Homo sapiens: one gene and its partners. The protein of the gene in region 4 purifies or fractionates together with the protein of the main gene of each other region. This does not show direct contact. Each region holds a gene or a part of one and is shown on either strand. Other genes may lie near its edges.

What was found. The genes of interacting proteins can lie anywhere in the genome.
Region 1: the proteins of EDDM3A (region 4) and HS3ST1 purify together in Homo sapiens (affinity purification with mass spectrometry; one large-scale study listed by BioGRID and IntAct). This does not show direct contact.
Region 2: the proteins of EDDM3A (region 4) and CNTNAP3 purify together in Homo sapiens (affinity purification with mass spectrometry; one large-scale study listed by BioGRID and IntAct). This does not show direct contact.
Region 3: the proteins of EDDM3A (region 4) and CD109 purify together in Homo sapiens (affinity purification with mass spectrometry; one large-scale study listed by BioGRID and IntAct). This does not show direct contact.

What each region holds. Positions count from the first base shown.
Region 1 is NC_000004.12:11,421,646-11,426,650, reverse strand, and holds part of HS3ST1 (heparan sulfate glucosamine 3-O-sulfotransferase 1 precursor), read left to right. Parts: intron 1-5,005. UniProt on the Homo sapiens protein: Sulfotransferase that utilizes 3'-phospho-5'-adenylyl sulfate (PAPS) to catalyze the transfer of a sulfo group to position 3 of glucosamine residues in heparan. Catalyzes the rate limiting step in the biosynthesis of heparan sulfate (HSact).
Region 2 is NC_000009.12:39,063,461-39,068,923, reverse strand, and holds the end of CNTNAP3 (contactin-associated protein-like 3 isoform 1 precursor), read left to right. Parts: 3' UTR 1-4,214; downstream 4,215-5,463.
Region 3 is NC_000006.12:73,764,947-73,769,951, forward strand, and holds part of CD109 (CD109 antigen isoform 1 preproprotein), read left to right. Parts: intron 1-983; coding exon 984-1,208; intron 1,209-1,812; coding exon 1,813-1,914; intron 1,915-2,001; coding exon 2,002-2,064; intron 2,065-3,108; coding exon 3,109-3,285; intron 3,286-5,005. UniProt on the Homo sapiens protein: Modulates negatively TGFB1 signaling in keratinocytes.
Region 4 is NC_000014.9:20,743,574-20,749,356, forward strand, and holds EDDM3A (epididymal secretory protein E3-alpha precursor), read left to right. Parts: upstream 1-2,313; 5' UTR 2,314-2,419; intron 2,420-3,981; 5' UTR 3,982-4,007; coding exon 4,008-4,451; 3' UTR 4,452-4,807; downstream 4,808-5,783. UniProt on the Homo sapiens protein: Possible function in sperm maturation.

The sequences.
Region 1 (5,005 bases), on a different chromosome or scaffold from region 4:
GGCTTATTAAGCTGTGCTTCTAGACTGTGGATCCTCTGTGATGCCACAGGGTATACAATGCTCTGTAGTTTTAAGATAGGAGATTTTTGTTCTGAGAAGCTGGTGAGAAATTGGCATCTTGAGATGGCATCGGAAAAAGCAAAGGGTTCTTTACTTTCCTGTGGTTATGTCTAGAATGAAGCCTCAAGCCCCCCCCCTGGGTCCCCCTAAAAGTTGGAGCATGTACTTTTCTTATTAAAATAAGAAATTATTTTACTGGAAAAATCTTGTGAGGGTTGGGGGGGGGGCCTCTGAAGGGAAAAGCCACATGGAAGCTTCTCTTGCCTTGAATTGAAACTCGATGGTGACTAGGAAGGGGCTAGAAAGATGGCCTGGGTGGTGTAAATTGCTTCACTCATGCACACTGCCTTTCTGAGAACATAGCAGCTACCCACAATGGCATATCCCCACCGTGGTTGCTAAATCATGTCTGTCTATGGGGGCTAAAGTTTGGAGGAAGGCACAGTAAGATGTATCTGGTGTCCTGATGAAATTGAGCCTGTAGGCTGGGTCAGTGCTCAGGCACCAGGTTTCCGGGCCTGCATCTAAGCCTGGGTCCCTGTGTTAGAGACAGTTGTTGCAGGAGAGTGGTAACTTTTTAGCAGCTTCCAGGGAAATGCAGTAACTTTCCAGCTAGTGCTGGAAAATATCAGGGCTATTCCCAGTTTTTTTCCCCTCAACCTGGCTACTTGACCTGGTGCTTTCAATTGAGGCTGCTCTTTTCTTATGGCAGAAGGCAGGAGAGTGCTAGCTGGATTTAAAGCCAACTTCTTGCCCCATGACCTTGGGCAACAATTTCTCCCTCCCTGACCCTAAATTTCTTCCTCTGCAAAACAGTGATGAAAAGATTATTATAAGAAAGTGAGAAAATGTATATGAAATGCATCTTGCCGATTGGAGAACACTTGTGCAATTGTAAAGGGTAAAAAATACAAAAAATTAAGTTTTATCGTAGATCTATTTTAATGTTCATTTTAATCATAGTTTGCATATGTCTGAGTAAATGACATATGCTAAACATTAAGTGGGAGAGATTTCTTTTAATTGGCCAGTCTCTTCTTGTGATCACTCCACCTGAATGCTACAAGCACCGGGCCTCACTACTTCTCAGAATGATTCCTTTCTTGTTTTCAGGATCACAGTCAATTTTTAGAGTGTTTTTCCTTTTAACATAATACACATTACATGTCTTAAGAAAATCTGTTTGAAGAGAGGGCCCTGATGTTAATTAATAATTTTTTTAAAAAAGGAGAAAAGTCACAAATGGGGAGTGACTCCACTGGGGAAAAGTAAAACATGACCAGTGTCACGAGATGACCCGGGTCCCCCTTGTCTGAATCTTTCATCAGCATAATGCACTGGCTCCTCATCATTGCATTTTAGGTGTTGTTCCAAACGTGTCTCCAGAACCTAACTCAGTGCCTGCCTGGCACTTAGACATTCAATAAGTATATTTGGAATAATTGAATGAGTGATTGGACTGAATCTTCACAGCAACCTTGGAGAGCAGATGGCGTCATTTCTATTTTAAGGATTTGGAATCTGCCGATCGGAAAACTTAATTAATTTTCTAAAGGTACAAAGGATTCCAGACTAGAATTCAGGCCTGTCTGTTCTTATTCCACTCTACAGTCGTGCTTGTAGTGCCCTCTCTCTTCAGACTCACTTAAAACCCTTCTAAGCAGTTGGAACCAAACATCCTATTTAGGGAACACAACCTTCCCTTCATAGAAGGATTTTTTTTTTTTTTTGTGGGAGATGGGCCTCTTTCTCCTTGTCCATATCTCCCAGCCCTGAACTAGGGCTTAGTTGAATGATCCCACCTGGGGCCTGGAATCTTGAAAGACTAGCTAAAGGGCACAGGGACATTGGAGTGTTTATTTACCACCTTGGATCATGGATCAAGTGGCGTTGGCAGCAGTATGCATGTCCCAAGCTGTGGTCCCAGAGGTGCCTTTTCTGCAACACCATCTTGATGTGCCTCTGGTGCCCAGGTTCCTTTCATTCCTTCTCATTTTCCAATCCTGGCTTTTCAGCTTCTCAGCAATTCCTAGAGGCAACCCATAGTCTTCAAGTGAATTCCCTTTCTCCCTGACTTAGCCAGAATTGCAACCCACTGATGTACAGCTTCTCCCCATTCATCTTCAGGCCTGTCTCCAGCATGAAACATCCTTAGCTTCCTCTACCCATGGGGAATGAAGTCTGTAGCTTTTTCAGATCGTTAGAATAATATCTACTGGGCCGTAGTTTGTCAATAGTTATGTGCTACTACAAGAGGTCTAGAAAAATGAATACATTATTCTTCCAAGCAATACTCTAAACATAACAGAAATAGATCCCAGTGGGCATCTTTCTTTTTCTCTAATACATTATGCTTTTTGGTAGTTTTCCAGCAGGGGTCGCAAACTCTAATGTCTTCAGCAGCCAGGCAAGTAACAGCTTGAGTGGAACAGGACTTGGGCCCTGTGCCTGGGTAAGTGGGGGTTGTAGCCCAGATCCAGCACAGGGGCTGCAGGCGGGACTTCAGGTCTGGTCTTGCCAGACCTGGTTATGTTTTTTTTTTTTTTTTTTTTTCAAGATAGACTGTCAATTCACAGTTTTATGTAAAATCTACTCACTTTCAAGTGCCAGCAGCTAATTCGATATTCCTAAATAACACCATGTGGGCCAAACCAAACATTTCTGTGTGTAAGCCTTATATCTGTCACACAGGCCTCCAATGTATGGCCTCTGGTTTCCAGGGATATGAGGGAAATTTGGAATATGAAATTCAGGAGGGCATGTTGTTCAGAATATCGAGGCAAGAGTGTAGGGACATGGAGCACAGACAGTGCTCTAGTTAGTTACTGTTTACAGAGTGAACCTCTGTTCGGGATGTTCCTTCTTCCTATCTCTGCAAGTGGTTACAGCAATCATGTTTACTCCTTTAACACGTTTATTGAGTTCCAGCCATGTACCGCATATTGTTCTGCTCACCGGTGACACAGTAGGGAACAAAACAGATGGAAGTCCTCGCCCTTGTGCTTATCTTCCAGCAGAGGAGACAGACAAAACACAAGACAGATAAGCAGAATCTCTCCTAGTTAGATAGTGATGTGCTAAGGATTAAAAAATAAAAACTAGAGGAAAGTGATAGGAAATATCAGGATACTGGGGAGAAACCTTAGGCTGTTAGCCAGGGAGCCTGCAGTTCAGTCTCTGGCTCAACATAACCCAAAGTTAAATTTCATTATCCAACATAAAATATTTTCTATGTGGGAGTTTGATTGTATCCTGGGTCTATCATCCATTGGGTAGTTTTGGATATTGAGCTATACTCTCAATTTTAATAAAACTGACTATTGAGCACGTTTATTGTCTGCCATGTACCCGGCATTGCATTACGTGTTAGAGTACATTGATGAACAAAACCAGTCAAGGACTACTCTGCAAGGAAATTATAGACCAGCATGAAATACATTAAACATGATCTCAAATGATTAGGCAACTACAGTGATTGAGGACTGTGGTAAGGATGCCTTAATTGTTGAGTTTTCATACTCAGAACTCTGACGTTCAGCACTTTTTTTTTTTTTTTTTTTTTTTTTTTTGACGGTGTCTCGCTCTTGTTGCCCTGGCTGGAGTGCAGTGGCGTGATCCCAGCTCACTGCAACCTCTGCCTCCTGGGTTCAAGGGATTCTCCTATCTCAGCCTCCTGAGCACCTTTTAACTTGATCATTTGTTTTGTTCCAGGAACAGTTTACATCTGTGCTTATTAACTTACTTTAAGCCTGCTCCCATCGTCCACGGAAATTTTTTTGAGGCTTTAATTTCTTTATCTGGCAATGACATTTTTATTATAAAATTTCATTTTGCATTATTAAAAGTATTTATTTTTAAAAAATGTGTTCCAAGTGTAAAGTGTGCTTGTGCCCTTGGAGACTCTGGTACACCTTCTCCCAAATCTGCCCCTACCTTTGCTATTGATTGTCGTTCACAAGGCAGTTGTGCAGGATATTAAGAAATAGTTCTTGTCATTGATGAATTTACAGTTTAGTATGGGAGTCAGATAAATAACCGAGTCTCTGCCTGTCTCATGAGATGGACCATCCCAAGAATATTTCCCTTTCATCACCTTCTTTCTTTCATGGTAATAATTTCTTCAGTAACATAATTAGGTAGCAAGTATGTTTATCTGGAGTCACCTTGTTACTGGATTGGCTTATTTGCTTACTTTCTCACACTCTCCCACCAGAATATGTGCTCCAGGAGAGCAGGGGCAGTGTCTGTTTGCTCCAGTTTCTAGAACAGTGTATTGCTCAGAAAAGAAGAAACAGGCGGCATTTCTGTCTGGGGGAGTTAGGAAGCGGTTCATGGTGGAAGAAATATTTAAGAAAAGAGATGTGGTGAGAACAGCCAAAGAAGAATGATAAGACGTAGTCAAAATTGCATAGCCCTCAAACCTTTGTTGAAAACTCATTTGTCTATTTTAGGGATTCCCAATACGGTCAGTCCAGCTGAATAACTGGCATATTAATACAAGCGCTTTGCTGAATAGATCCTGGTCTGCTTGTGCAAAAGCACTCTGGCATGAAAAGAATGTAGTAGATAATTCCTTACTTTCACATAATGTGACAATACCCACTGCCTCCTTTATCTCTCGTACCCAGTCCTGCGAGGACTGCAGGGGAGCTCTCACCATCTTCATTTGCTATTTAAGGAAACTGAGGTCCAGAAGTGAAGAAACTTTTCTTAGAGATGCCCAGAGTAAAGGTGGCAGACTCCGGATCCAGGGACAAAATTCTCTACCTGCTGTGAGCAGTAGGCTCAAGGTGGAGATTTGTTAAATCCCTGGAGAACTGAGTAGTCCACATTTTCTATAAGCAAAGAAATACATTTAGATGTGAAACATTCACATCTCCTTTCATCCCTCAAGAACTTCTATTTCAGCATTTTATGTCTTGTCGAATTTCCACTAGAATTCCTG
Region 2 (5,463 bases), on a different chromosome or scaffold from region 4:
ATGAAACAACCTCAAACCAGACAAAATATATGAAACTATGGTTTTCAGTACACTGGACATGAGGCACGGAATGTAATCCCTGAAAGACAGGAAACATAAGATGTGTGCTGTGAGTATCCCAGCTTACAACTTGAGAGAATTTGAGACAGCAGTGACAATGGAGATAGATAGCTTAAGGAAGCCTAGCAAGTCTCTGAATGGAGTAGCTGTTGCTGAGAGTTCAGGTACACGAAGGTGGCTAGAGATTGCAGGATAGAGTACCGGCGAGGAAAGAGCTGCATTGGAGAAAACTTTGCAAATCTGGAGAGGGTCGCCCTTCAGTGTGTAACAAAGTGCATGAAACTACCTGAGGCAAGGGAAAGAAACACTCAAAAGAATTACAGCGGCATTTATCAACCTTTAAAAAATTATTATTGACCTCAAGGAATCTTTTTAAACATCTTTTCTAGTCACCTCTCTATGAATTTTTTAATTTTTATTTAATTTAATTTAATTTTATTTTATTTTTGAGACGGAGTCTTGCTCTGTCGCTCAGGCTGGAGTGCAGTGGCGCGATCCTGGCTCACTGCAAGCTCCGCCTCCAGGGTTCATGCCATTCTCCTGCCTCAGCCTCCCGAGTAGCTGGGACTACAGGCACAAGCCAACATGCCCAGCTAATTTTTTTTTTTTTTTTTTTTTTTGTATTTTTAGTGGAGGCAAGGTTTCACCGTGTTAGCCAGGATGGTCTCGATCTCTGGATCTCATGATCTGCCCACCTCAGCCTCCTAAAGCGCTGGTATCACAGGCGTAAGCCACTGCGCCCGCCCTGAAATTTTAATATCGCACATGCACTGCATATCTCTTTAGTACTATACGTATATCTGGGCTTTACACAAAAAGAATATTTTTCTTCTCTTCACTTCTCCCATCCCCCCCAAAAAAACTAATTTCTGTCGTTTTGGGGACAATATTACTCTCACTGAGAGTGCATGTTCACATACAACCATGAATAGAGGTGGTTGCCATGGGCTATACCAGAAATCCCCATAATTAATAGGGCATTAGGTAGAATATTCATAGGGGTCTTGCCTCAGTCCTGGCAAGTCCTAGACCATGTATTACTATGGCGGCCCCACTGAACAAATCTTCAAAGATTTGGAAAAAAAGATCAAACCGTTTCCAATAACTAATTGGCATCTCTGAGCAAAGTTCACATGTATTTCCAGTAACATAAAACTATCCAACACCAGGCCGGGCACAGTGGCTCATGCCTGTAATCCCAGCACTTTGGGAGGTCGAGGCAGGCAGATCACGAGGTCGGGAGATGGAGACCATCCTGCTAACAAGGTGGAAACCCCGTCTCTACTAAACATACAAAAATTAGCCGGGCGTGGTGTTGGGCGCCTGAAGTCCCAGCTACTCGGGAGGCTGGGGCAGGAGAATGGCATGAACCCGGGAGGCAGAGTTTGCAGTGGGCCGAGATTGCGCCATTGCACTCCAGCCTGGGCAACAGAGCCAGACTCCATCAAAAAAAAATCCAACACCCAACGAGGTAAAATCACAATGTCTGGTATACAATAAAAAATTACCAAGTGTGTGAAGAGGCAGAAAAATAGGACCTATAATGAGGATAAAAATCAATCTAAAATGACCCAGCACATACCCAGATGTTAGAATTACTAATGAAAAATATTATGACTATATTCCGTATTTTCAAAGATTAGGATGTGACAAGAAAAGGCTTTAATTAAACTTCGAGAGATGACAATGTTAATGTATAAGATTAAAAAATACAATGGATGTAATTAATGGCAGATGAGAGTTTTCAGAAGAAAATATTAATAAACTTGAATATATATAGCAGTAGAAAGCATCCAAAATGAAACAGAGACAGAAAAAAAACAAAGAATAATCAGAGTATCGGTGATCTGTGGGACAACTTCAGTTGCCTAATCTGTGTGTATTTGGAGTTCTCAAAGGAGAAAAGAGAGTGGATGGATAGAAAAAAATATTTTTAAAAATTAATACATAAGCATTTTCCACATTTGATGCAAACTATAAACCCACAGACCCAGCTCAACATCCCCAAGTAGGGGTGCTATTAAGAAAACCACATCACAACACATCATAAGCAAATGGATCAAAACTCAGTGTGGTAAAGAGAAAAAGACAAGTCTTACACAGAGAAGAAAAACAAGGATGATACCAGACTTCTTTTTGGAAGCAATGCAAGGGGAAGGGCAGTGGAGCAACATCTTTCATGCTTCCAGTGAAACATCTTCCAACCAAAAGCAGAAAACTCTCTCTCCTAGGTTTCTATACCCAGCAAAACCGTCTTTCAAGAAAGGATGAAACAAAGATATTTTTCAGACATAGAAAAGTTAAAAGTAATATATTATCAGCAAACCTGGACTATGAGAACAGTGTAAAAGCCTTTCAGGAAGAAGGAAAATAAAGAATAATATCTTTGTGCAGATAGAAACATGGATCCACACAAAGAAATGAAGAGCACTGGCAATAGTAACACCATAAGTAAATATACAATACCTGCCCTTATTACTTAAATATCTTTTAAAGATAATTGGCTGTTTAGAAATAATAGCAGTGTCATGTGAGTTCTGCAGCATGAGTAAAAGTAAAATATATGACAACAATAACCTAGAGTAAATGGAAATATAGTTTAGTTTGTAAGGTTCTTAGACTGTGTGTAAAGTCGTATAATGCCTATTAAAAGTTGGCTATTACAAGTTATCTTTAAGTTAAAACATCTGTATGGTGTAATCCCTAAAGCAAATGCTAGAGTAACAAAAACAGTGATAATATTACAATATTACACAATAATATTACAATGCAGCGATGAAATAGAATAAATTTTTAAATGCTTGAAAGTAGACAAAAAAGATGAGAAAGAGGACAAAGAACAAATGGGACAAATAGAAAGCAAATAGCAAGATATAAAATAAAAATCTGATAAATTTGACCTTAAGATTAACAACTCTCCTTTTAAAATACATTGTTAAGAGAATAAGAGTCAAGCTACAGACTGGGAGAAAATATTTGCAACACTTTATTTGAATGCTGTAAATTTTTTTCAGAATATAGTTCATAAAGAACTCTTAACAACTCAATAATTAGCAAAAATAAAATGAAAATAATGAATATAAGAAAAAATGACGAAAAGTGCTAGGCCAGTGGACAAAAAGCACACAAAAATGTTCAATATCGTTTTGTCATTAAGGAAATGCAAATTAAAACCACAGTGAGTTATTCTTCCCACTAAAATGGTTATGATTAAAAATATTGTCAGTACCACGTGTTGTTGAGAATATGGAGCAATTATAATTCTCATACATTATTGTTGGAATGTAAAATGCTACAACCACTTAGGAAAAATTGTTTAACATTGTTTTATATAATTAAGCATACATGAAACCTATGACCCAACAATTCCAATCCTAGATTGAAAAGAAATGAAAACTTATGCCCATTATAAGACTTACACAAGAACGTTTATAGCATCTTTACTTATAATATCCCCAAACTGTAAACTGCCTAAAAGACCTTCAACAAGAAAATGGACAAACAATTTGTGTTGTATTAATAATGAAATACTCTTCAGCTATAAAATGGACAAAACTACTGGTAACTGCAACAAACATGGCTGAATCTAAAAAACCTTGTGTTGAATGAATAAATCTAGACACTATAGGGTACATTCTGAAGTCCTAGAACAAGCGAAACTAAGATATAGCAGTAGAAATTGTATCAGTAGTTACCTGGGTTGAGGTGGGATGGGAGTTGACTGCAGAGAAACACAAGGGAAGTTTCTGGAGTGATGGAAATGTTCTATGTCTTGATTGACTATGGTTACATTGGTGTGGACATTTGTCAAAACTCTGAATTTCATATTTGGAATTTGTATATTTTGTATATAAATTATACTTCAATAAATATGTACATGTATATATATGTGTATATATAATACATTTTGATATGTCATGATGTCTATCACTTCACAGCATATTATATTTCTATCATACCATATTTACATAATGGAAAAAGATGAAAAGGATGCTGTATTTTGGGGAAATCACAAGAGATTATCACCTTTATTTATTTTTTATACAAATACATATAAATCTTTCACAGTACAATACAAATGTCAAAATGTGGTATTTTCATTGCTCTATAAATTCTTATATGTTCTATGTATGTAATAAATGTTAAAAACAGTGTTTATATGTTGTATATGTTTATTTGTTCTATGTGTTTACATGTTCACTGTTCTATAAATTCTCATATATTGTATACTATACAATCAGGTGATGAGCTGCTCAGTAAATAAGTGCTGAACACTCTGCATCCCTCATCACGTCAAGCATTTCACATCCCTTTTCCTGTAGGCTTCCACAGTAGACATTTGACTTGCCAATTACATTTTCATCCATCATTCTGGAGAAGCCTGGAGAAACAGCTAGACACAGGGGACATACTCCTATACCTTGCTCATTGTGCCTTGGAATTATACATATTGAAATATTGTAAAGATTTGCTTCATTTGTATCAACATGGCTGTGAAATTAGATGTCAACTCTACCTCAGTTCCAACTTTTAGGAGGAATCCAGATAGTTTATTAGAAAATAGAAGTGCAAAAATGTTTGCTGTTTGATTCTCAGACCATAGCCTGAGATTAGCAATATTAAAAAAAAAAATAGCAGACAGAAGAGGCCCAAGTCTCTCCCAGCTCCTGGGATGCATGGAAGCAATGGGCTGTGATGTCCTACTGAGGTAAAAGAAGTAGTGTTTGTTATAGTCCCACGAGCAGAAGCAGTAAGAACTTGAGGTAGGGTGCACCTAAAACTGAGAACAAGGGAAAGCTGAAGTAGGAAGTGTCACCAGGGAGGGACTATGGGTCCTTACTATGCGAAGAGAGAAAAGGATTTAATTAGGTCCAACAGAATATAATGCCATTTCAAAAACATTTTCTGTTAGGACAGTTTCCAGAGACTCTAAGTGGTTGTTTTTTGTGTGATGATTTTTGAGCTTGGTAGAATTTTTCTAGTCTGACTGGATCAGTTCTAGAAAGCTGCTCAGATGAATATGCAATGAATGCTTTCTCTCTTCACATACTTCTCAGTTAGAAGGAGAATATTTCAGGCCAAAAGGATGCAAGACCGTAGTTATATATGCCACAATCAGATCAGTGATTTTAATTTGCCCACCCTAAAGAAATATGAGTATATACCACTCTAAAGAAATCTGTCTTTCTAACATGTCTATCACTTTCTTCAATGATTCCATAGCAAACAGTTAATGAAAAACAACAATAATAGCACATGTATTAATCTTCACCACTTGTAATTTTCCAAGGAATTTAGACAGATCTATTGCAAAAAAATTCATCAATTCTTATGTTCTTTCCAAATAGTTTTTGCACTAAATGATATTATTCAACATTTCTCCATGTCTACCTGTACCTTCAG
Region 3 (5,005 bases), on a different chromosome or scaffold from region 4:
TTAAAAAATTGAGGCTGCAAATGGTAATTTCTGAATGAGTAGAGTGAAACCATGGGCGTTCAGAGGGGGAGAGTTGGCTGTGGGATAGGCATGGGGGTTACTATGGGATGCTTTATGGAAGAGGATGGTCTAAACTGTTTTTTAAAAGATTAGTTGTGTTTTAAATGCTTGGGCATGGGAGTGGGAGGTGGGGAGCAAGATAAGAAGTGAGACAAGAAGGAGAGGTCTGGCTGGCAATTTCGGGGTGCACTCAGGTAGTGTTTGAGGGAGACTGCTCAGGCTGTGTGCAGGAGGATGGCTGTAGCCCAGGAGTGAGGGGATGGGCAGCCTTGTGGTGGTAGCTGTGGGAGTGGAGAGGATGGAAGAGAGAAGCATAGGACTTTGGTGTTCATTGGATTTGGGGGGTGGGGAGAGGGAGGGAAAATTCAGAAATGTAAAGTCTTGCAAAATCCTGATGTTAGCGAAAATAGGAAAATGACATGGTTGCTCATTTTAGATATGTGAATTCAAGGTGTCCAGGATATCCAAGTAGAAATTTCCTGCAGGTAACTGGAGGTGTTGGGCATGAACTCCAGAGAAGGGCAAGGATGGGAATTTTGGCTTTAGGGTACAATCACAGAGATGACAAGCTAAGCAATAGGATTGCTGAGACCTTGGAGGAAGGGAGAAGAACAGATGTCCAAAATTCCCACATTTAGGGAGAGGAAAGAGGAACTGAAAAGGACACTGAGAGGATGCAGAAAGAGAGGTAGGAAGTGAAGGGGGTTATTTTGGAGCCGCGGAAGTTAAGGGAATCCATAATATTAACAAGGGAGTAATCAGTGATGTTGGATGCCTCCTAGAGAGAGGCCACTGAATCTGGATATTATAGTGCTACCAATAATTTTTGAGAGTTCAATTTCATGAGAATACTACAGACGGAAACTGTATTTAATCGTACTTAAATCCTTTGTGTTTTTAAGATGTTTTGTTTTGACCATTAGGTGAAGGTAACTCGTGCTGATGGCAACCAACTGACTCTTGAAGAAAGAAGAAATAATGTAGTCATAACAGTGACACAGAGAAACTATACTGAGTACTGGAGCGGATCTAACAGTGGAAATCAGAAAATGGAAGCTGTTCAGAAAATAAATTATACTGTCCCCCAAAGTGGAACTTTTAAGATTGAATTCCCAATCCTGGAGGATTCCAGTGAGCTACAGTTGAAGGTGCCGTCTGTTTCCCATCATTGTGTCACTGCAACAACACCATTACAGTTGTAATCTTGTGGTAGGCACTCAACCTGTCAGAACTGAAAGTACATAGGAAGTGGACACATGTTTCTGTTTCACAAAATGGAGGAGAGTGGTAAAAGTAATTTAATGACAGTGGCTGAAGGTTAGACTAAATTTTTCCTTGTAAGTTCATTTTGAAGAGCACAGTAAAATATAGCAATGTGAAGATATGATGGAGAATTTCCTCAAATCCCCAGTCTAGTGTTTGAGGTCAGTCATTTGAAATTTTATTTTGGCAGGAATTGAAATGAAAGATAAATATATATACATATATATATATACACACATATATATGTATATGTATATGTGTGTGTGTATATATATATATATATATTCCTTTCCTGTGTTTTAAAGCTATCAGTTTCTTTACAGTATAAGCTATAAAATGATGAAAATCCAATGTCTGGTGAATGTATTTTTCTTGCATTAAAAAAAAGTGAAGATGAATTTGGTCTTTAATAATTGTTCAGCAGGTAACATCTTTTCTCAAGGTGTTACTAAAGATGAACATTTACAGCTCCTTTTTCTTTTATTATAGGCCTATTTCCTTGGTAGTAAAAGTAGCATGGCAGTTCATAGTCTGTTTAAGTCTCCTAGTAAGACATACATCCAACTAAAAACAAGAGATGAAAATATAAAGGTAATGCTTACAATTCACTTGAGAATTACAATATAATTGGACTATCTTGCTTTTGATATGTACATATTAATTAAGGTTTTTTTCTAGGTGGGATCGCCTTTTGAGTTGGTGGTTAGTGGCAACAAACGATTGAAGGAGTTAAGCTATATGGTAATCTCTTATAGAATCTAAATTTATGATCTATTATAGAATCATCTTTTTATTCACTTTTAAGTTCTGGGGTACATGTGCAGGTTTGTTATATAGCTAAACTCATGTCATGGGGGTTTGTTGTACAGATTATTTCATCACCCAGGTATTAATCCTAGTACCCATTAGTTATTTTTCCTGATCCTCTCCCTCCTCCTACCCTCCACCCTCCCATAGGACCCAGTGTCGGTTGTTCCCCTCTATGTGTCCATGTGTTCTCATCATTTAGTGTGCACTTATAAGTGAGAATATGTGGTATTTGGTTTTCTGTTCCTGCATTAGTTTGCTAAGGATAGTGGCCTCCAGCTCCATCCATCTTCCTGCAAAGGACATGATTTTATTCTTTTTTATAGCTGCATAGTATTCCGTAGTATATGTGCACCACGTTTTCTTTATCCAGTCCACCTTTGATGGGCATTTAGGTTGAGAATCATCTTAAATGGTGTCTACCTTATATCTACACTAAACTTATTAATTTTTATAACTCAGCCTCATACCTTTTTAGCCTGTCGTTTTAACATTGCAATCAAATAAAAAACCTTTTTTATTTCTTCACCTATGTTTGCATTTCCAATTTAAAATAGATAACTAAACCTTGTTTTATGTTTAAAATTTAAATTTCTATTTGATAAGCAATATATATTCATTATAGAAAATTATACAATGTAAGAAAAATGAAAAAGAAAATAAAAAGTGCTATCCATGACCATGTAATTTTGCTAATTCAGCTTTCCCAATGGTGCCCTGTATTCCTTGCAATCAAAAATAGATTCTTGACTATGAAGCTACTGTTGCTCCAATCAGTATTACTTTAATCTTACCATTTTCTTTTTCTCAGTGTATGCTCTCTGTGTTTGTCAGAGAGGTTTTCCTGCATTCCAAAAGACTTTGAAGCTGGTTTAATTCAAGAATTTGTGTGTATGCATACAATTATGATTAATGTAGCTTCAGATGAGATCCTACTAGGTTTGGCAATAAATTAAACCCATCTACTGTTCTTTTCAGGTAGTATCCAGGGGACAGTTGGTGGCTGTAGGAAAACAAAATTCAACAATGTTCTCTTTAACACCAGAAAATTCTTGGACTCCAAAAGCCTGTGTAATTGTGTATTATATTGAAGATGATGGGGAAATTATAAGTGATGTTCTAAAAATTCCTGTTCAGCTTGTTTTTAAAAATAAGGTAAGATTTAAGGTAATGATGTTTAAAAGAAAACTTTATATTAGTGAAGTCTGAGAAATGTAATATTTCTTTAGAAAAGTATCATTAAGCCAAACTGGTTAGAAATTTATATTATTCTATTTCTAGAACTATGGTTAAACTTTTCAATATTTAGCATTACATATATATTTTCACTTGTGGAGTTATTGGGGATTGATAGTCTATTTGTAAACTATGGTTCTGGTCTTTAAGACTTTAACTCAGATCATGAAGCTGTTTCAGAATTTTTCAAATGGTTGAATTAATATTGCTCAGGAGTGAAATTCCAGTGGTAACATAGAATTCGTGTGGTGTTGATATTGCAGTGATATAAAGGGTGTGGGAAGGAGTGAGGCCATCTAGGATAATACGTAGAAGCAGAGCTGGGCTTTCATTAATCTATTTAATTAGCTGGAAACTAGCCCAGGGCAACTTTTCAATGAGCTTGATTACCCTGCATGTGAGGATCTGTGTGGAGTCTGGTCTCCAAGTGCACCAGTGCCTTTTATAGCCTAATGTGACCAGCTTGAGTAGGAAATCCCTTTGGACCCCAGCTCTGAAAAGAAACCTGATTGCATCATCTCATGTATATAAGAATGAGCCATTGCTGTCACTAACAACTGCTGCCCTCTCCATCCTCTTATGTAAAAAATTATTCCTTTAAATAGTGATTTGCAGAGTATGGTTCTTCTATTTCTTTTTCCTTTATTTGTTAAAATATTTGAGAAGTAACAGTAGTGATCTGTACTTTCTTTTTTAAAATTTGTATTTATTTATTTTTTGAGACTAGGTTATAAGACTGGCTAATTTTTGTATTTTCGGTAGAGAGAGGGTTTTGCCATGTTGCTCAGGTTGGTCTCTAACTCCTGGGCTCAGGAGATCCACCTGCCTCAGCCTCTCAAGGTGCCGGGATTACAGACATGAGCCACTGCGCCAGGCCTGTACTTTAGTTTTGTTGAGAATTATTACTCTCACTTTGATTGTTAAAATATAATACAAACTTCTATTTTTTTAGCTTATGAAAAGAGTTCTTAAAAAGATAACACTGTGTTTTGTTAGTGGTAGAGCACAATTTTTGACTTCTAGTGATCCTAGTAATTGCCTGACAAAGGTGAATTTTAAAGTAGAAGTTATGGAGGCTTAAACATCTCAGAAAGCAAGACCAGGTTCTAAAGCTGGTTACAGTGTAAAAGATCACGGACTTTGAGGAAGCAGAGTATATGAATAGCATACTTTCAAGTAATTTCTTAGCTATAAGAGAAAGGAATTAGTTTCAGTTCCATTTGCAACTATATATCTTTCTCTTATTTTTATGTGATAATCATCACATTTATAAAGAAACAACATAATTAGAAATGGAATATGTCTAAGCAAGAGAAAGTTAGTGAATGTTTATTAATGTTCAGTAATGACTATGGAATAAATAAATGAGCTGTAGGAGCGGCAAGAGATTTAGGTTTAGAAATCATCCACACAGAAGTGCAAGTTGAAGCCATGGGGCTCTGAGGTACAGAGTATAGAGTGAGAAGTACAAGGTCTAAGACTGAGTCTTGAACATGCTGCTCCCTCTCCCCCATGCTTTAGTGTGTAGGTGGAGAAAGTAACCTACATACAGTGGTTTGAGAGGCATGTCAGAAAAAAATTGCACTGGACAAGTTAAACAGGTAAGGAAGGCTTTATTCAAGACTATTGCAATGGAAGA
Region 4 (5,783 bases):
GAATTAACAGAAAATAATTAAAATCAAAGACAATAAAGGATGAACATAATTTTCAAGTGATTTAAAATTTATATTTAAAGGGGAATACCTCCTTAAAAACCGAAATCAAAAGTCACTGCCCAAGGAGCTTCTGTTACACAAGCTGGTAGACAACCCTAGGAAGTAGACCCATTACGTAGTTTCCAGAAATACTGGTTGGGTTACCTTCCTGGGCTGCATTCATAGTGGCTAATTTCTGTAAATATAACAATATGCTTTTCCCCAGTTTAGTTTAGATGGCCTCCTAATTGGGTTTATATCCAAAAAGCTTTAGGACTTTGGGCTTAGCTCATAGGAGAGTTCATGGATGTATGCTTGGAGTCCATGATTTTTTTTCCATATTAAAAGTGGAATATCAAGTATTTGAGAAACACTGGCTCATACATTGGCTCAGGTGGCTTCTCTCTCCCACCTCTCTACATTCATTGAGTCACTACTTGAATTTGTCTTCAATAGACAATGCACATTTGTTGGAAAGAGCTCTGGATGTGTGGGCACATGACAAAAAACTGATTTTCCCTCAGAATCGCCTCTCAAATCATCCAAATTCAGAGGCCCAGAATTGTTCCTGTTTTGCTCTCCCCTGTCCCCCAAAGACCTAGAGAGTAGAAGGATGCACAGAACCTGCTCTAAGACTATCTCCCGTCCATCCAGTCTATCAGCACATGATTTTCTATTACTCAAGGACTGCTTCACAGGAGTGGGGGTTTGAAGATAAGTTCTGGATATAAACTGAACCTTCTGTCATTCCAACAATAAGGTGGCCCAGTGAGAAAATCAACTAAGGTGGTTTGGCTAGGAGCAGCCTTTGGAAGTGTTGTTAGAAAAGATTTGCAAGAGTCTTACTTTATTCATAAATCGTAACTTTGACTAGTGTTGATGAACCAGTATTGGTCACATTTGCCAATTTGTGGGGAGTTGGCATGGAAAATATGGTGGAAAATTCCGGCTGTGATGTTAAAGGTAACCATTGAACACTTGCACAAACTCAGTTGAAGAAGTTGTGGTCTTGTCAGTTTGAGCTGAGTTCAGGACTGAATCTTGAGGTCCTGAAAAACAACTTAGCCAGCACCTTGTGACCTATACTTCACAGTCAGATGTTACGTATAGTAGCATTGTAGAAACTATGGCCAGGCTATGTGACATTTTAATAGTAAGCAGTACAGTGTCACCAAACAGCTAAAGGTTATAATTAAAAAACTGAGTAGAGAAATTTCAGATACTGGCTACCTAATCATTCATAGCTATTTGGCCACTGTGTTCACTAGATATTCTTTCACCTCTCAATGAAGGTCTCACAATTCACAACATTAAAAGTGATTTTCTGGCCTGACCAAGTGGCTCATGCCTGTAATCCCAGCACTTTTAGAGGCTGATGTGTTGAGGCTTAGCTAGGCTCAGGAGTTCAAGACCAACCTGGCCAACATGGTGAAACCCTGTCTCTACAAAAATTAATACAAAAAACTAGCCAGGCATGGTGTTGCATGCCTATAGTCCCAGCTACTCAAGAGGCTGAGGTGGGAGGATTGCTTGAGCCTGGCAGGTTGAGACTGCAGGGAGCAGTGTTTGTGCGACTGCACTCCAGCCTGGGCGACAGAGCAAGACCCTGTCAAAAAAAAAAAAAAGGCAAAAGACCAGGCACAGCGAGTCACACCTGTAATCCCAGCACTTTGGGAGGCTGAGGCAGGCAGATCATGAGGTCAGGAGATCGAGACCATCCTGGCTAACACGGTGAAACCCCGTCTCTACTAAAAATACAAAAAATTAGCTGGGCGTGGTGACAGGCGCCTATAGTCCCAGCTACTCAGGAGGTTGAGGCAAGAGAATGGGGTGAACCCGGGAGGCGGAGCTTGCAGTGAGCCGAGATCTCGCCACTGCACTCCAGCCTGGGCAACAGAGCGAGACTCCATCTCAAAAAAAAAAAAAAGGTGGCTTTCCTCAGTGAAGTTCCCATGTAACATAGCATAACCCTCCAGGGACTTCCCCAGAAGTTTGTTAGAATTGAGAGCAGAGCTAAGTCTCTGGTTGTCTCCTGATAGCACCAGATAACCCTTTTCTGGGGTCACCTAGGGTCTTGCAATCATTTTGTACCCAGGGCTCAGCCTTTGATGTTTGTAGCCTTTGCTCGAGGCTACTGTTTGAGTGAGCCCAAGTGTTCCAGATGAAACGATACAGGGACAAGTTCACATAATAAGGCTGTTCCCCATCACCACCTCGGCTACCAATCAGCTGGAGCCCTGCAGCTCCCCCTACTATTCCTTTCTCCACTGCTGTAGATTTCCAGGGCTCTGAGAAAAGGAGGAGGACGCAGACTCTGCTCTTCAGATCCACATGCTGATCCCCACTACAATCAGTGACCTGAACTCAGAGTCCAAGTAGGGTAAGAAGGGCTCTGCTGAGGTTGCTCGGGGGACAGCCAGGAACACTGGAAGGAGGCTGATTGAACTTTTAGATAGCAAACAATGGAGAAGGATCCAAATCATGGAAAACAAAGGTCTGAATTCTGGTTAGCCTCAGTCCCACTGATACAGGCTTTTCCCTGCCCCTCCCTTCCTTCACCGCCAGTCCTCCTAAGCACAGTGCATTAAAGCTGCTTGCATCCTACTCTTCTATCTTGTGTAGGCCTTTATCACCAGGACAGGGTTCCACAGATGAGGAACCCTGTGCCTGATGTGGGCATTTGACATCTTTAGAAGTGCTCTCACATGCTTGCATCTCATTAGACTCTTGCAGGTCTGTAGGGAGCTGTGATTAGGCCTATCTGAGGACACCGATACTCAGAGCTATGAATCAGGCTAGAGGTTCAGTAGGGCCAGGAATACTCCTCATGGCAAATGAGGACAGATAGCTGGTAAAGAGATAACTTTTTCAAACGACCATACATCCTATGCTGTGACCACAGTAGCTCTGCGGGGGACTGTTTTAGTTTTGGTGCCTGATTGATTACAGCAACAGTTCTAAACTGATGTCCTTTTATGATGGCATTGTCAATAAGCTCTAACAAATGAAGATCATTTGTAATAGCAGTAATTAGGGAAATGGCCTCTGAGAAGGGATGCCGATAGTTAATAATGATCACATGTTTCACCCAGACTTTGGGGAAAGTGTTATAAGGAAGTCAAGGTTGGAAAAACATCATTTTTCAGAGAAGTGCAATTGCAGCCTGGGCTGTGGTTTCCAGAATCAATGCCTTCTGCCTAGGAACCACCTCCCAAGTAGTTACTCATCTTCTACATTCCCTTAAAATGCAACAATCTTTTCCACTTTGCAGACAATACGCTTAAAATGTCATTTTTCTATTGGACACATGATCTCCTGAGAGCTTATTTGGTAAAAGAGAGCTCGATAGTGATTGGCTCCTCAAATTGGGTAGAAGACAGGGTAGACAGGAGATATTTGAAATTCTCAAAAGGTACTTTATCTATATTTTCCAAATTTGTGTTAGCTCTCACAGGCTAAAGCATATTTTTAGTTCTTAGAAACTGTATTCTTTTTTTTTTTTTTTTTTGAGACGGAGTTTTGCTTTTGTCACCCAGGCCGGAGTGCAGAGGTGTGATGTCGGCTCACCGCAACCTCCGCCTCCCAGGTTCAAGCGATTCTCCTGCCTCAGCCTCTCGAGTAGCTGGGTCTACAGCCACCATGTCCAGCTACTTTTTGTATTTTAGTAGAGATGGGGTTTCACCATGTTGGCCACGGTGTTTCTCGAACTCCTGACCTCAGGTGATACACCCACCTTGGCCTCCCAAACTGCTGGGATTACGGGTATAAGCCACTGTGCCCAGCCCAGAAACTGTATTCTTTAATGAGAATCATCATCTTCTAATATGGAACCAAATAGCAATATAGTGCCCAAGTACCTGCTTGGCAGGGAAAGGAATTTTAAGGTGGAGCTCAGCTCTCTGAGTATAGTCTGGTTAATGCTTTTCTTTCTCTTCCCTGTAGACACGCAGGTGGACGTGGTGACTGAGATGACATCCTCTCTAAAGATTTGGGGCATACTCTTGGCCCTGCTTTGCATCCTTTGCAGGCTGTGTGTATACAGTAACAACATTTACTGGAGAGAATTCATAAAACTTCATTACTTAAGTCCAAGTCGAGAATTCAAAGAGTACAAATGTGATGTCCTCATGAGAGAAAAAGAGGCTCTGAAAGGCAAGAGCTTTCATATGTTCATCTATAGCTTATGGTTCAAAATTCAGCGTGCATGCATCAATGAGAAGGGGAGCGACCGATATAGAAATGCATATGTATGGGCCCCAGGTGCCCTCAAAGTACTCGAGTGTCACTGGGAGAAGTACAACAATAGGTACACAGAGAGCAGAAGCTTCAGCTACATTGAATTCCATTGTGGCGTAGATGGATATGTTGATAACATAGAAGACCTGAGGATTATAGAACCTATCAGCAACTAGAAAGTCTATGCACATCCTCAGATATTGGTAGAGTATTCAGTGCTTCCAAAGTGGTGGGCCCTGCCTCCATCAATAGCCCCTGCCACTCCCCGCTTACATTTATGTGTCAGTGTTTTCCAACTACTTAGAGTTTATGTACCTCGTGATTTCTTGATACCAAATCTTTGTGTGGTTTCTGTATCTGTAATACAATTTTGTCCTAATTTGCCTAATTTACACCCACATTTTTTCCAAGATTCAGCTCATATGGCATCTGTCCTCGACTAACCTAAGACTTTCCTGATATTGACTCTCTTTATACCTACCCAAGCTGAACGACCCTCCTTTTCTTAAATAAAATATATTATTCTAACGTATGTGACGCTTATATATGTTATGTGTGCAGAGTATGTATCGTGTGATTGGTATGGGTATCGGTGATCTAGGCTATTTTTGCCTATGGCTGTGCAAGGGGTTTAATGTGCACTTTATGTGTCTGTGTCTAATGTATGTGATATGTTTATGTATATCATGTGGATATAAATGATTGTGTGCTAAACTGGAGACAAGTAGTGATGTAAGCACTCATCGTGGTAGCAATTTGAAATAATCAAAAGGGTCAAAATCCAGTTTTAAGGAGTGGGCTGGGCACTGTGACTCATGCCCATAATTTCAGCACTTTGGGAGGCTGAAACAGGTGGGTCACCTGAGGTCAGGAGTTTGAGACCAGCCTGGCCAACATGGTAAGGCCCTGTCTCTACTAAAAGTACAAAAATTTGCCAGGCTTGGTGGCACATACCTGTAGTTCTAGCTATGGGAGGCTGAGGCAGGAGAATCTCCTGAACCTGGGAGGCAGAAGTTGCAGTGAGCCGAGATCACGCCACTGCACTCCAGCCTGGATGACAGAGCAAGACTCCGTCTCCATCTCAAAAAAAAAAAAAAAAAAAGAGTTTACTAAAGTGAAAGGCTGGGAATGGACATTCTGTGGCACACAGATTCCAGAGAAATGGGGTCAGTACTCCAAAGTTAAAAGTTAAGTTCTTTTTTATGTAGGAAAAAGAGAAAGAAGTGAGAAAGGATTACATTTTCTATACCAGACTGGTTCAAGAGTTACAACAAATTAATTGGTTACACTTTTGTCCCCCCACCACATGACTTGTTCTATTTATAGTTGTTTTTCAATTCTCTCCAACTCTAAAAAGTGTGTTTAACTTTCCATCTTAAGACAGTGTGAAAGCCCAGAGGCTGAGATGGTTGGATCGCTTGAGCTCAGGAGTTTGAGACCAGCCTGGGCAACATGGCAAAACCCTGTCTCTACAAAAGAAAAACAAAAATTAGCCAGGCATGGTGGCA